Linked DNA regions of Homo sapiens: all the other regions are reported to be linked to region 2. Evidence: microRNA targets listed by miRTarBase, many of them from high-throughput screens and not tested one by one. Region 2 holds a microRNA gene; each other region holds the end of a gene's coding sequence.
The links. Region 2 holds the annotated microRNA hsa-miR-3622a-3p (UCACCUGACCUCCCAUGCCUGU, at 3,390-3,411, shown strand). A microRNA usually pairs through its seed, bases 2 to 8, with sites in the 3' UTR of a target mRNA and lowers its output. Matches are read on the target gene's strand: a 7mer-m8 pairs with bases 2 to 8, a 7mer-A1 pairs with bases 2 to 7 and ends in A, and an 8mer does both.

Region 1 (5,068 bases), not on the chromosome of region 2:
AAATCTCTCAGTGTAGAATGCCTTCACTTTTCATCTCTGGACTCTCAGATCAATTAATTCCACCAGTAATGATGAAACAACTTTATGAACTCTCCCCATCTCGGACTAAGAGATTAGCCATTTTTCCAGATGGGACTCACAATGACACATGGCAGTGCCAAGGCTATTTCACTGCACTTGAACAGTTCATCAAAGAAGTCGTAAAGAGCCATTCTCCTGAAGAAATGGCAAAAACTTCATCTAATGTAACAATTATATAATGTTTCCCTTTTTGATTATTGCATTGTATTTTAATTTGTGCAGAATGATAAAGAATGTTCCTTTTAGAAGTGTGTTATGTCTGTACCTGTCTGAAGAGTGACATTAAACTTTGAAAGGACTTCACTGCTCCTTTACGATATTCCAAATAGTTTTTTACATTGGAAAAACTAATTCTTGGGATTCTTTCATACATTTTCATCAAAACTTTCAGTGTGATTATGTATTCATATCTTCAGTTTAATATGTCAGTATAATAGATATTGTTCAAAAGTTTCTTGTTGCTAAAGTGGTGTAATCTGTTACACAGATGAATAGCTAGATGTGGAAAGAGATATGTAAACAAGAAACCTTTGGGTATTGTTTCTTAAGTAAATATTGGGACAATCATGGTAAGCAAACTTAGTTCTGTAACTGCATTTTTCACCTTAAAAGTTAAATGAAATGCATGATGGTATTTTATTCCTTGAATTATGCAATGCAACATTTTACATGTAAATAGCACTGGTCATATACTGATGTATATGGTTATCTGGGTTATATCTATTTTTATGTAAACTCTATTTTGTTTTTGGCAAGAAGTGAAATTGAGACTTATGTGCAGGTTGCCATTGAATTTTGCTCTGGTGAATGCTGAGATCCAGCTTTTTCTTACAAATAAATGGGACCCTGTTTTCCAATACAAATGTACCGTGTTTTTGTTAGGTACAGTCTGGATCATGGCATGTAGAAATAGAAATTTAGAATTTTACTGCAGCTTTGATGTGCATATTTGAACTTTTTAACATTTGTAACTTTGGTGGCAAAGAGAATTTTAGCTTCTATCGATTTTGTAAGTCTTCAGCTGAACCACTAATAGCAGTCATAGTGAAGATTAGCACTACTTAGAATTAAATTAGGAAGTCTTTTATCATTGCAGGATTGTACATACTACTTTATAAAAATTCTCACCTTTGATTTTAAATCCCAGTACCTAGTTATATCTAACCTATCAAAGGCAAGATATCATTTATTGGACTTCTTGAAAATAAAAGTTACAAAATCCAACAACAACAACAACAAAACAATGTTCTTGGTTTTAATGTTCCAGTTGCTGTGAAATAGAACTCCTACAATCAAAAGACAGTTTTAGGAAGTCTTATTTATTGATTTTAAAAGTTTTACATGTAGGAGTGTGGGAATGAAGGAATTCTGGAGCTTTTTGACACAAAACCTATTACCACATTTAGCAGTTAAATGGCTATAGGTGGGAAGTAGGATTTAGATGTATAGAAAAGTAAGAAAATCTTACTTAGAAAAAAGCCCCTTGAAACTTGCAGGATTTACTTAATAAAAATACACGCTATGAGTCATAATTGTGCCAAGTTGTTTCATGCAGTCCTCAAAAATTAGATGTAATTGAGCTTTGTGTAATATTATGTCAGCTTTAACATATAATATTTTGAATATTTTAGCTATATTTAGTGGCTTTCTGCAAGCAACTAGAACAGAGAAGTAATGGGTCAATAATCTTGACCTTAATTTAAAACTTTCAATGGAGATAGGGCTAGAAATACTTTTGCCAAATAGCATTCTTATTCACTTTATGCCGGTATTTAGAAAAAATAAATTATAGCAAGTATGATTTCTAAGAATGTTTTTCTATAAATTACTAATTGTAAAAAGTCTTGCTTTTTAAAACAAGTTGGTAATGCATATCATGGAAGGCATATTTTGTATGTATAAATTCACCACAATTAAAGATTATTCTTGTCAGTCCTTGCTATGTAGAATGACTATTCTAAATATTAATGTATTAAAAAGAAAATACAACAAAATGTATATTTAGACACGAGCTTACATGGCATACCTTATATTTGTATCATTCTTTAAAGTTTACAAAAAAAAACCTTATGTTTTTATGTAATCAGTCATTACACTAGGGAGAAATTTATCAGCTTTAGTTCTAAATATGCTCATGAGGTATAAAAGCTATTTCTTCATCAGTATTTTGCTTTTATGCTGCTTTTTCTTTTTGATACTCCAGGTTTATAAACTATCTTTTAAAATTTTAAGCCAGGACTTCAAAAATTGTAGAGTACTTGTTTGGCGTTCCCTACCTTCATTCTCTTAGGGTTAAGGAGCCTTTCTTTCTGCAGCTAAGGGCAGAGGCTGTGCCTAGGGCTATACCACCACTAGCATCTGTATTTGAGACTGTTTCCTTAGATGGGTAAGAGGTGGAAAACAAACTTAGTATCAGGGGTCCATGAAGCCCATGGCATCATTTTTGAAAATATTTCTAGTTTTGTAGCCAAAGCAATTGGTTTTAGTAAAATGAGACTTCTTCAGGAGTCACTCCTTTACTGTGGACCCATTGCTTAGTGGGAATGGAAGTATATGTATCTATCTTGTGTATTAACTTCTGACTTATTTATACAAGAGCAGCTATAGGAGTTTACAAAAGAACTTTAAGTTATTAAGTTACTATAAATTTGGGGATCCTAGAGTGATCTTAAATATGGCAAGATACAGCTCATTTAGAATAAAATCTCACATCCATTATTTTAAAGGGAATGATTGGGGGGAAAAACTGGTGAAAAAGAAATATAAAAAGGACCCTAAAAAGAATTCTGCAAAATAAGAGAAGAAATAATTTGTGACAGGTAATAGAATACTAGTAGGATAGAAACAACTAGAAAGGAAAGTGTGACACAGTTTTTAAATTTAGATGTAGAAAATAATGAATTAATGAGATTGGTGAAAGGAAATCATGCAAAACATTTGAATGCAAAGCATTTCTAACAAAAAGTGACTGGAGCACTTGCCATTGCAACAACCCTGTTTTTGCAATTAGGTTTTTGACTGTTAAAATGGATATTTTCATAAAAATGGTGTTCTGAATTTTGCTACAGGGCTGCTTAAATTTATGATTACCTGTAGACACTTGATATTTACATAGATTACAGCTTTGGTAATATGTCACTGGAGTAATTACGCTGTAATACCTGTTGAGAATTCATACCATCTGATGCTTATATATTAATTTCTTATGTTTGTAAGTTTGGCTTTGTGGGAATAGGTGTGGAGAAATTAAAGAGTGAAGGCCATATTTCATTTTTTATAAATTATCTTTCAAGCTCAGATAGCTTAAGAGCAGTTTATATTAAGGAGACCCTTTTCTCCTTGAGGATAGGGATAGGTAAGGTAAACTTGTAAAAAGGATGTCACAGAAGTCACTTTTTAATTAAGTCATGATTGAGATACTGAACTCTTCCACTCATTCTTCTTTCCCATTTTCCTATTATGTTTGATAATTATATGTATTTTTAAAAACTGTGAGAGGAAAAATTAGTCATAACCCTTTTGGGTTATCCACTTAAATTTAGGTATTTTCATATTACTCAGGTAAAGATGGAAATGACAGAGCACAGACATTTATTTTTTAAATTGATAGGGTAGAAAATGAAATGTACTTCTGTTTATTCTTAATACTATATATATATATACACACATAGTTTTAGCAAATTGGAAATAATATATTCATTTGTATGGCAAGATAAATGCAGTCATCTTAATACTAGTCTATACATTTTTGCCAAATGGCGCAAATATACCTCCATTTATATTTTGTATCTTAAAATGTAGTTTAAAAATAGGACCATGTATGAGACACTTTTTTACAAAAAGTGCCGTATATACATATGTAACAGGTGAGTGTGTGTTTAACATAATTTATAATTATTTCTGTCAGTACAGCGTATATGGAAAATTCAAGTTGTTTTTAACATATTCAAGTATGTTCAGTATAAAATAAGTTAATCCCATTTCATAATGTAAATCATATTTTTGTTATTTGCCATATTTTATTTGAAGTGATAAAATTTTATAACTCAAATTTGAATGTCATAGTACATTGTGTGCTAACCATGGCAAGCAAACATTTACATTTGTTTTTTACAATAAATTTCTTTTAAAATATACTTTCTATTTTTCTGTACTGACATATGCAATAAATTGGTACATTAAAAATTTGATTAATGTCTTCAGATAGTTTGTATTCAGTCTTTTTTTAAAAATTGTTAATCTAGAATTTTATGGTAGGACATTAAAATTTCTTCAATGGTTACGTAAAATTCCTGAATTTGCACTGAAATTAATGAATTTTATTCTAGTAATGGTGTGGATAAAAAATAGAAGTTAGATTTATATTTCCTTCCCCGGAGAGTATTATCCTCTTACATATATTTAATTTAGGCTAATATTAAAACTATACATAAACCACTGGTGAATGACTAATCCCTAATGCATTTCTTTAGTTAATTGAATCTAGGAATGAATACATTTTAACTTCATAATTATGTTGCCTTCAGATTTCATAAAATGCTTTTTTTTAAAAATTCTGCTTTTCCCCCCCTCTTGTTTGTATTTTAGTTAATGGTTTTTAATGATCAAAAAATGACCTGATACTAACTCAGCCTTTAGGGGCCTATACCTTGCTTTTCCTAACAAGAAATGTGCATGCTTGAATATGTCAGAAGGAGTTGGATCATAGGAAGTGTAAGATGAATCTTAAATGGTCCCCTGAAAGGGAAGATGAAGAATTCACGTATTGGAGCCCATCTTTGTATGGGTAGATCTAGTGGGAGCTAGGGTCTCTCATGTACTACCCTGAAAGATAGCCAACTTGAATCCCAGGGTGAAGTCATTTTTAGATTACTATTTCTTAAATTTGAAAGATAAGTTTTTTTCACATTCCCATTTCACTCTCCAACTCTTTCATTACATTCTGTTACATACTAAAAAGCATGAACAATTAGATCTGGCTAGAGAC
Region 2 (5,076 bases):
TATTTTAAGATAAGACTGGAGATTGGATTTATAATGTGTCAAGTTGATATGACAACAAGAGCACCAGGGATAGCTAATTGCAAATTTAATGGTGGAAGTCTAAATGTTTTCCCTTATAAACCAGAAATAAGGCAAGGATCTCATCTCCCAACACTTTTATTCTATTTGACTAGAGGTCCTCCCCAACGAAATAAGACAAACAAAGAAATACATATTGGAAGGAAAAATATAAAGCTGTATTTATTCACAGACAGCATAGTTGTTTGTATAGAAAATCCTAGGGAATTTACAAGAAAATGGCAATTATTAAAAAGTGATTTACCAATATCATAATATAGAAGGCCAATATACAAAAACCCATTGCATCTCTATATACTAGGAGCAAAAAATAAGAAAATTAAAATTAAGTAATCATTTAGCAACAGCATAAAAATATAAAATATATAGGAATGAATTTAGTAAAGGATGGGCATGATCTTTATAGTAAAAAGTACAGAATATTGCTGAAATTTTTAAATATCTTTATAAATGGAGATATATATATATAGTGGTATCTATCTATCTGTCTATCTATATATATATCTCATGTTCATGTATAAGAAAACTCACATTAATAAGACGTTCATGGCTGGGCACAGTGGCTCACGCCTGTAATCTCAGCACTCTGGGAGGCCGAGGCAGGTGGATCATGAGGTCAGGAGATCGAGACCATCCTGGCTAACATGGTGAAACCCTGTCTCTACTAAAAATACAAAAAATTAGCCGGGCATGGTGGCGGGCGCCTGTAGTCCCAGCTACTTGGGAGGCTGAGGCAGAAGAATAGTGGGAACCCAGGAGGCGGAGCTTGCAGTGAGCCGAGATTGCGCCACTGCACTCCAGCCTGGGTGACAGAGCAAGACTCCGTCTCAAATAAAAATTAAAAAAAAAAAAAGACGTTCATTTTCCTATATTCTTTTACATATCCTACACACTTCCAATCAAAATCCCAGCAGCCTTATTTTTCTTTCTTTCTTTTTTGTAAATGACAGAGTCTTGCTCTGTCACCCAGGCTGGAGTGCAGTGGCATGATCATAGTCCACTGCAGCCTTGACCTCCTGGGCTCAAGTGACCCTCCCACCTCAGCTTCATGAGTTGTTGGGATTACAGGCGTAAGCCACTGTGCCAGGCCTCGGCAGCCTTGTTTTTAAAGACACTGACAAAACTGATTCTAAAAATGTATATAAAAGTGCAAAGGATCTAGAAAATCCACAGAATTTTGAAGAAGAGTTCAGTTGGAGGGCCTATACTACATAATATCCAGACGTTCTCTAGGTCTGTCATGGAGGCTCACACCTGCAATCCCAGCACTTTGGGAGGCTCAGGCAGGAGGATCACTTGATCCCAAAAGTTCCAGACCAGCCTAGACAATATAGTGAGACCCCAACTCTACAAAAAATAAAAATTTAAAATTTCAGAAAGAAAAAAAAAGACTTACTCTAAAGCAGCAGTAATTAAGACAATGAGATAATGGTGTAAGGACAGACATATAGATCAATTGAACCACATTGAGATCCAGAAATAGATTTACACATATATATCAATTGATTTTCCCCAAAGACACCAATGATTTCAAAGTCTTTTCAACAAATGATTTTTATATGCAAAAAACAAACTTTGATATTACCTCATATAATACACAAAAATTCATCTGATATGGACCACAAACCTAAATGTAAAAACTAAATCTATAAAACTTCTTAAAAAATACATAAGATAATTTTTGTGACTTTAAGAAATATGGTCATGAAAGTCACAAACCATAAGAGAAAAATTTTGATAAATTGGATTATATCAAAATTAAAACCCTCTATTCTTTAAAATATCCCTTTAAGAACATGAAAAGAAAAAAAATCCCAGAATAAGAGAAAATATTTGCAATACATATATGAGACAAAGGACTTGCTTTCAGGATACATAAAGAACTCATACATCTCAATAAGAAAAAGACATGCAGCTCAAATTAAAAATGGATGAAAGTCCCAGCACTTTGGGAGGCCGAGATGGGCAAATCACTGGAGGCCAGGAGTTCAAGAACAGCCTGGCCAACATGGTGAAACCCTGTCTCTACTAAAAATACAAAAATTAGCTGGGCATGGTGGTGGGCTCCTGTAGTCCCAGCTACTTGGAAGGGTGAGGCAGGAAAATCACTTGAACCCAGGAGGTGGAAGTTGCAGTGAGCTGAGATCACACCACTGCACTCCAGCCTAAGCAACAGAGCAAAACTCTACCTCAAAAATAAAAAAAAAAAAAAAGATGAAAGACATGAACAGACATTTTGCAAGAAAAGTATATGAATGACCATGTAAGCACATGAAAAAGTGTTCCAGCTTCATTAATCATCAGGGAAATGCAAATGAAACCACTCTGAGATACCACTAGAATGGCTAAAATTTCAAAAACCAACAATACAAAATGTTGTGAGGATGTGGAGCAACGAGAACTCTCATGCATTAATGGTGAAACTGTGAAGTGGTACAACCCTTTTGGAAAAGTTAGGTGATTTCCTATAAATCTGAACACATACTTAACCTATGATCCAGCAATTTCACTTCTGGGTTTTTACCCAAGAGAAATGAAAATGTTTTTCTATACCAAAATTTGTACATACTATTCACAACAGCATTGTCCAGAATAGCAAAAAACTGGAAACAAGTCAAATGTTCATCAATAGGCAAATGCATGGAAAAATTATGATAAATCCATACTCACCAGTAAAAAAAAAACAAAAAAACTAGTGATATGCAAACCAACTTGGATAAATCTCAAAAGCACATTGAGTAGAGGAAGTCACTCAAAAGAGTACAGACTGTATTATTCCATTGAGATGATGTTCTAGAAAAACTAAAATGAATCTATAGTTACAGAAATCAGGTAAGTGGTTACCTGGGATGGGATGGTTAGGATGGGATTAACTACAAAAGAGAAATAGGGAAGTTTCTGGGGTGCTATAAATATTTTGATTGATTTAACAGTTACTGAGTGTATATATTTGTTAAAATTCATCAAAGTCTACATTGAAGTGTATGCATTGTATTATATGTAAATTATGCCTCAGTACAGTAGATTTTTTTAAAATGTTCTCGTAGCTCCCCATTGAACACAGGTGTCATCATGGCAAGACATTTCCTAGCTGAGAGATGCTTTTTCATTCTTTCATTCAAAAAGTAGCTTTTTCTTTCCTTCCTTCCTTCCTCTCTTTCTTTCTCTTTCTCTCTTTCTTTCTTTTCTTTCTTTCTCTTTTTTTTAGTGGCAAGGTCTTGTTTTGTCACCCAGGCTGGAGTGCAGTGGTGTGATCATAGCCAATAGAGGGTGCACAGGCACGGGAGCTCAGGTGAGGCAGGGAGCTGAGCTCACCTGACCTCCCATGCCTGTGCACCCTCTATTATATCACTCGTATGTCTACCATTGTTTGCAGATCGTGAGCTGCTTGATGACTGATGCTAGGGTGACCAACCAACCAAGTATGCCCCAAACCAAAGGGTTTCCTGGGCTTCCTGAGCTAAGGGATGTTCAGTGCTAAAACTGGGAGGCCCAGGCAAACGGGGAAAATGGGTCACCTTATCTGAGACCTTGTGCTACTCATCTCTGAAAGCATTCCCAGGCTTAGCCCCCTATCAGGTGGGTGATGTATGCTCAGTAAATGTTTCCTGAAAGGCTAGAATATGTGTGAGTAGGACACTTGAAATTCTCCTTTGGTTTCCCATGCAAACTGAGTCCTACAGTGAGAAAGCCAAGCGTAGTGGCAGATCCTGCCCCAGACACCAGGCTCGCTTGGGTCCTGCCTAGGGCGCCAGCCTCTCTCCCATGTCATTGGTGTTCTGGAAAGCAGATAAACAACTGACTTCAAGTCCTATTTAAGTTTTATGGGGTAGCCAAGGTCTTCCAGGGCTCCATCTCCAGGAAGCCCCCTCCCTGCAGCCTGGCTGGCTTTTCTTCTTCTTCTGGTGAAGTCATCCGACCCCAAGTGGCCCACAGTTTCCTTTCTCTCCACACCTCCCAAACCCGCTGCCCAGTCCTGGCACTGCCTGGGGTTACTGCTGACCTTTCAGTGCTGTTTGCTCAGAAAGTGCCTTTATGTCAACACAAACAGCCTTCAGGTTTGCCAGGGCCTGGCTCCTTTTCTCCCTGGGGTCCAGGGTAGAAAAACAATAACCAGTGGGAAGGAGAGCGAGCCATAGGGGAGTGACGCGTCCCTGGACCTTGGGTCTCTGTCCTCTCAGCCCTGTCCCTCAGGGCCTCCTTTGTCAGAACTCAGTTCTGTGGGGAGAGGGTACTGGGGAGGCAGCGGCTTTAAACAATGCCACAGTGTCTGGCAGGGAGCTGCGTGCTTGACCTGATTAGGCTCAGTGAGCCCGGGGGAGGGAGGGAGTGAAGGCAGGCTTGGGAAAGTGTTTTCCATCCCCACCCAACAGACTTTGCTTCCTTGTATCTCTGCCAAGACCTCTTTTTGGGGAGGAAAGGCCGAATCGCCTCATTTCTACAGGGGCACCTTGGCCTCGCTCCTCTAAACCTGGGTAAGCTCTTTGACCTGCCTGTCCCCCTCCCTCTTGTCTTTCCTTCCCACCAACCAGCTCCCAAACAGAAAGTGTTTTTCACACTCGCAGCTCTCCCTCCTCAGGCCCTGCCAGGCCCGAAGCTGGGCCCAGAGGCCAGCTGGCACCCACATGAAAGGCCTTCCTGTCGAGAACTGGCATGGAACCCAGGGCCTCAAGGCTGCCCACACCACAGCCCTGGCCCAGGGTCCAGAGCACAGGGCCACGGAAACTTGGCCACAAGGCTCTGGGGAGAAAAACAGCCTGAGCCGCACAGGAGAGGAGCCTCCCATCCCCGCAGCCTGGCTGGGCACATCAAGGGAGAAAGCGCAGTGCCCAGAATCCTTTGAACATGAAGCCGCAGCACCTGCACCTGGCAGAGGACCCGGGAACCAGGGATTCGTGCTGGGGGCAGCACTTGGGGTTTGTTAGTGCAGGTGGAGAGAAAACAGGAGAGTAGCAATTTCCAACCCATCAGCAGAAAAAAGTGAAAGCTGAGAAGTCA
Region 3 (5,068 bases), not on the chromosome of region 2:
TTCCTTCCAGCTGGGTCTCCCAGGGCAGCCTGGAAGGCTCTGATTGGCAGAGCGTTGGTGGCAGTCACATGGAAACTAGCTGTCTTGGGCAGAGGGGCTTTTTGCAGTTTTCAAGGGCACTCTGTTTTTCTCCATGCTGACCCGCTTTAGCAGCCCAGTTTCCAGAGTCTCTTCAACGCATTGATTAGTCCAGGCGCCTCAGGCACACCCAACGCTGATTTGTCCCCCCAGGTCGCCATGGGCTACTCACACTCCTTGGTGATAGCAAGAGATGAAAGTGAGACTGAGAAAGAGAAGATCAAGAAACTGCCAGAATACAACCCCCGAACCCTCTGATGCTCCCGGAGACTCCTCCGACTCCACACCTCTCGCGGCAGCTGTCATTTCCATGTGCACTGGGACGGGAAGTCAAACGAGGAATTTAAAAAAGCAAAAGTTGACCGAAGGTGCATTTTTGTTTAGACTCCCTGAGGTTCCGTTTTACACATGATCCAACGTTAACTACCTTTTTTTCTGTATGCTTTCCAAAGTCCTTTTTTTTCCCTTAATGTTGAATTAAAATACTTGCTCATAGTTGATTTACCATTCCTACAAAAGAGGCAGAAACTTTGAGCAATCTAGGTTTTTTTTTTTTTTAAGTTTTTTCTTTCTTCCTCTCCTGAATACACTCCCCAAAACACCCCTTTCCAGTTACAATTAGCATCGTGATCCAAGCAGATGCCACATGGAAGAGGAATCGCCATTTACTCAGAAAAAATGTCCCTTACAGGAACCGGCAGCAGCTAGGCAGTCACCGGCCCGCCTCCATCCAAAATCACGCTCGCGTGCTTCGGAAGCATCCGGGTCACTCCTTCTCCGCTTTTTCTTGCAGATGGGCCTAGGCCGGTGTCGGTTCTGTTTCTCCCCTTGGCTGCCTGTACGCCCACAGCCTTCTGGCTGCGACATTATAGAATCGGCCGTGTCCCCCCTGGTGGGGGATTGGGGATCTGTGTTTAGCCATTTATATCTACTTTAGCTGTTAAAGAGGTCCAAATGAAAATCAGGTGATTGTGGAACCATGGGGACTTGGGGGTGGGGCAGAGGTGGGAACATTTGTATCAGTTGAGTCAGCTTGGTGGCTCCCTGTGGAGCCAGGGCTGAGCCTTGTCACGCGCACTCGCCAATTAAGAGATGGACCAGCCAGCAGTCAAGTGCATTCTCCAGTCCTTGCAAGAAGGATCAGCCCTTTCTGTGCCAGCCTCGATCGCCTTGTGCTTTGGTCTCTTTTTCTCCCCCCCGCCTGGATCCTGCCTCGCGCGGGCCGTCCTGTTGCTGAGACTCGGGGTACCGTTCTGCTGACCCAGCTCCCTTTAGTCACGTTTGCTTGGCTCTGGTACCAAATAGTTGGGATTACCGAAGAGTCCCCTTCCTTGCGTGTCAGCACGGATGCTGTGACTGCCACCTGCGTCCTCGTCAAGTGCCCGAGCTCGCCGCCGTGTGTGCTGCGCTGAGTGAGTTATGAGGTGCCTTTCCCGGAACCCTCCTCTCGCCTGGACCCAAGAGAGGCGACAGCTGTGGCTGGGGCTCTTGGTTTCCAGAGGGTCTGGACTGGTTTGGGTGCTTTAAAATAGATATTTAGTTCAGTGGTGCTTATGGGGGAGATGGGACTAGAACTTAAGTGTGAGACTTGGGTGGATGGGAAAGTTAAATATTGGTCTCTTCAAGTTTTTTTTTTCTTTTGCTTTGTTACCACTTGTCACTGTCTCCATGTTAAAATGCCAAAAATGATGTAGTTGTTGTTGCTTTTTTCCCTATTTTCCACCCCAGTCGCTCCTTACCGTGACTCCTGCCCTTGGAGGGCATGTAGCAGTGTCTGTCCTGCCAGTCCCAAGGCCCTGTGGGAGGAGACTGGCCTGCATCTCTCTAAGACTTAGTCTGACGCCACGCGCATCTCTTGTTCTGTGTTCAATCAGTAGTCCAGGGGAGAAGCTTCTGCTACTTCAGAGCTTTGCTAAACTAACCTAATTTGTCCAAATCACCCCAAAACCACCATCTCTGACGTAAGCTTCCATGCGACAGCCTGATCCGTTTCCCTGGACAGGTCTCTTTCCTGGAATGCAGCCCAGGCACCTGTGCTCCTGGCACCCTTGAGGTCTCTCCTTTGAGCCGTGGTCACCGAGAGGGTTGAGGACGCAGCACCCGAGGTCCCAGCCTTTGCAGGAGCCTCCCTGGGCTTAGCTGGACTTAGATCTTCGGTGGCCTCATGTAAACGTGGCAGCCAGCCTCTTCTAGAACCCTAGCCCAGGGACTGGAGCAGGAAAGGGACCTTCAAAGTGAAGACTGCCTTGTCCCGCAGCTCCTTCTGGCTTAGATTGAAAAATGGGCTTCCTAATGGGTTAAATCCTTTAAAACAAGGAGTTGTGGGGGAAGGGTGTCGTGCACTCCTAGAGAAAGGTACACAGTTGCCCGGTTGGGAATGTGCTTGGCGCTGACCCTGCGGGCATCTGACTGGTCTTCCAGCTCAGGAAAAAGAATTTGAAAGAGGCTTAGCGTGAAGGGGAATCAAAGAGGAGGTTGTGATTTGGTCGAAGGTGCCTGGTTTAGTGCTGTAATTGTCTTATTATTTTTTTTATATATATATTTCTTGGAGTAAACATTTTAAATAAACAACAACATTGTCTACTGTCTTGGATTTTGCATTTCTTTTTCGGTTGGAACGGAGCTCTGTTTTTCTTAACTCCTTATATGTGTACCTCCTAAGCCCTGGCACCCACAGAAGGTGGTGCCAGGAGACATGTGGCCCCAGGGGAGCTTCCAGGTTTAAACTGCACTGGTTGAAGTGAGTGGATCCCCCAACTCTGCCCCATGAAATGCTAGGGGAGTGGGACAGAGTCAGTACCTCAGTTGTCCAATTCAGAAGTGGAGTTCTTTGCATTTTCACTGGGGCTTTGAGAGGAAAAAAATAAGTCATGGGAGGCATCCAGCGCGGTGACTGCATGTGCACCCACTCCCCAGACTTCAGCAGGGGGCTCTGGTCAGGCCCCGGCTGTGGCTTCAGGCCAGTGCTGCTCTGTGCAGGCATTGTGGCCAACTGCCCACCAGAGGGCACCAGGAGGCTGGTCGTAGGTTCAGAGATCACGGACACTCTCCCTTCTAGGCTGCTGCTGAGTCTATACCGGGCAGAGTCCTAGACCAGACCCTTGCACAGGACACCGGCTCCCTGCAGCCGCAAAGATGCCTGGGATCCCTGGAACCTCGAGTGCAGGCCACCTTGTGTTGACTGGCTGAATAGTGTCCAGACCAGCCCCTCCTGGCAGGCATTGGCCCAGTTTGGGAGAGGAGGAAACGGTCTCCCATGGCCTGTTAGCTGCAGAAGGAGCATGTGCACTGTTGCAGGACAGTCCAAATGTAAAACACGGTGTTTCCCCATCTCCCCCCTTGGCAGCTTGGAGCTTCCCATCAGATGCTCCTGCCCTGGAAGAGCCCCCGTGGGCAGGGAAGCCACTGCTGGGGGCAGCGTCCCTGCTGACACACTGGCTGTTGTGTATTGGGCACATGCTGCAAATTGAGTGTCGTGTGTCTCGCCCCTGACTCCTGCAGTCCACTCCGACAGTCTTTTTGGAGACTGAGTTTCTTTCACCCAGGCTGGAGTGCAGTGGCATAATCGCAGCTCACTGCAACCTCTGCCTCCTGGGTTCAAGCGATTCTCCTGCCTCAGCCTCCTGAGTAGCTGGGATTACAGGTGTCCACCACATGCCTGGCTAATTTTTGTATTTTTAGTAGAGATGGGGTTTCACCATGTTGTCCAGGCTGGTCCCGAACTCCTGACCTCGTGATCCTCCCACCTTGGCCGCCTCCCAAAGTGCTGGGATTACAGGCATGAGCCACCGCGCTCGGTCTTGTATTTTTGAGATGGAGCTTTGCTCTGTCGCCCAGGCTGGAGTGCAGTGGTGTGATCTCTGCTTACTGCAACCTCTGCCTCCTGGGTTCAAGCAATTCTGCCTCGGCCTCCTGAGTAGCTGGGATTACAGGCAAGTGCCACCACGCCCTGCTAATTTTTGTATTTTTAGTAGAGACGGGGTTTCACCATGTTGGCCAGGCTGGTCTCAAACTGACCTCAAGTGATCTGCCCGCTTCAGCCTCCCAAAGTGCTAGGATTACAGGCGTGAGCCACCACGCCCGGCCACACAGGCAGTCTTGAAGGGAAGGCTGTTTGTTTTTTATTCCTGTGTTATAGAGGGAAGTGGGGTGCAGAGAGAAAATGGCTTTGGCTGAGGGACACAGTGGGGCGGGTAGGAAGACCTGTGCCTGGAACCACAAAGATCCTAGTAACAAAGATGGCCTCCCCTGCTCCCCCAGCCTGCCCCTGGCTGAGGACAGGGAGCCCATGTGACCTGTGGCCACCCTGGAGGGGCTGTCTTGAGAGCTTCGAGAACATCCAGGAGACCTTCACCTGCCCTTCCAGGGGCAGTGTAGGTGGCCAATACAGAGCAGCCGGGGCCTGCCAGGCCTGTGGCTGGGGGATGGGAGAAGCCTCCTGAAGTCGGGGGGGCAGAGAAGGCAGGCTCCCCACGGGCGGCTCTGGAGGTTTTTTTTTTTTAATGTCCCCCAGGCTGGAGTGCAGTGTCACAATCTTGGCTCCCCGCAACCTCCTCCTCCCAGGTTCAAGTAATTCTCCTGCCTCAGCCTCCTGAATAGCTAAGATTACAGGCACAGGCCACCACACCCGGCTAATTTCTTTGTATTTTTAGTAGAGATGAGGTTTCACCATGTTGACCAGACTGGTCTTGAACTCTTGAACTCAGGTGATTCCTCCCACTACCTCAGCCTCCCGAAGTGCTAGGATTACAGGCATGAGCCACCGTGCCCGGCCTTTGGCTCTGGGGTTTTCTCACCTGCAAAGCTGCTGCCTCCTGCTATTGTCCTGCCCCGTCAAGCCAGCAGCCTTTCTGGCCAATGTCCTCCACACTAAGCGGCTCCTTAAGCTCCCAGGGAAGAGTGAAAAGGGCTGGAAGGATGGCGAATGGGGAAGGGGACTTGCCGGTTCCTACCCAGCCCTGCTTTGCCCCGAACACCTGCCCCAGCCCCA

Region 1: miRTarBase lists ABHD13 as a target of hsa-miR-3622a-3p. Seed matches in the 3' UTR shown: 7mer-A1 at 3,945-3,951.
Region 3: miRTarBase lists RCC2 as a target of hsa-miR-3622a-3p. Seed matches in the 3' UTR shown: 8mer at 1,040-1,047.

What each region holds. Positions count from the first base shown.
Region 1 is chr13:108,229,973-108,235,040 of GRCh38, forward strand. It overlaps ABHD13 (abhydrolase domain containing 13), which reads left to right. Exons shown (of 2, transcript NM_032859.3): 2 at 1-4,271. The coding sequence ends at 260. Among named protein-coding and RNA genes, the nearest start is that of ABHD13, 14 kb to the left of the region's middle.
Region 2 is chr8:27,698,337-27,703,412 of GRCh38, forward strand. MIR3622A (microRNA 3622a) reads left to right here and starts at 3,341; the gene lies at 3,341-3,423. MIR3622B (microRNA 3622b) reads right to left here and starts at 3,431; the gene lies at 3,337-3,431. It overlaps LOC124901920 (a long non-coding RNA gene), which reads left to right and starts at 2,634. Exons shown (of 2, transcript XR_007060869.1): 1 at 2,634-5,076. It also overlaps a transcript of SCARA3 not described here. RefSeq lists a silencer at 4,798-4,943.
Region 3 is chr1:17,404,358-17,409,425 of GRCh38, reverse strand. It overlaps RCC2 (regulator of chromosome condensation 2), which reads left to right. Exons shown (of 13, transcript NM_018715.4): 13 at 232-2,666. The coding sequence ends at 336. It also overlaps RCC2-AS1. Among named protein-coding and RNA genes, the nearest start is that of RCC2, 33 kb to the left of the region's middle.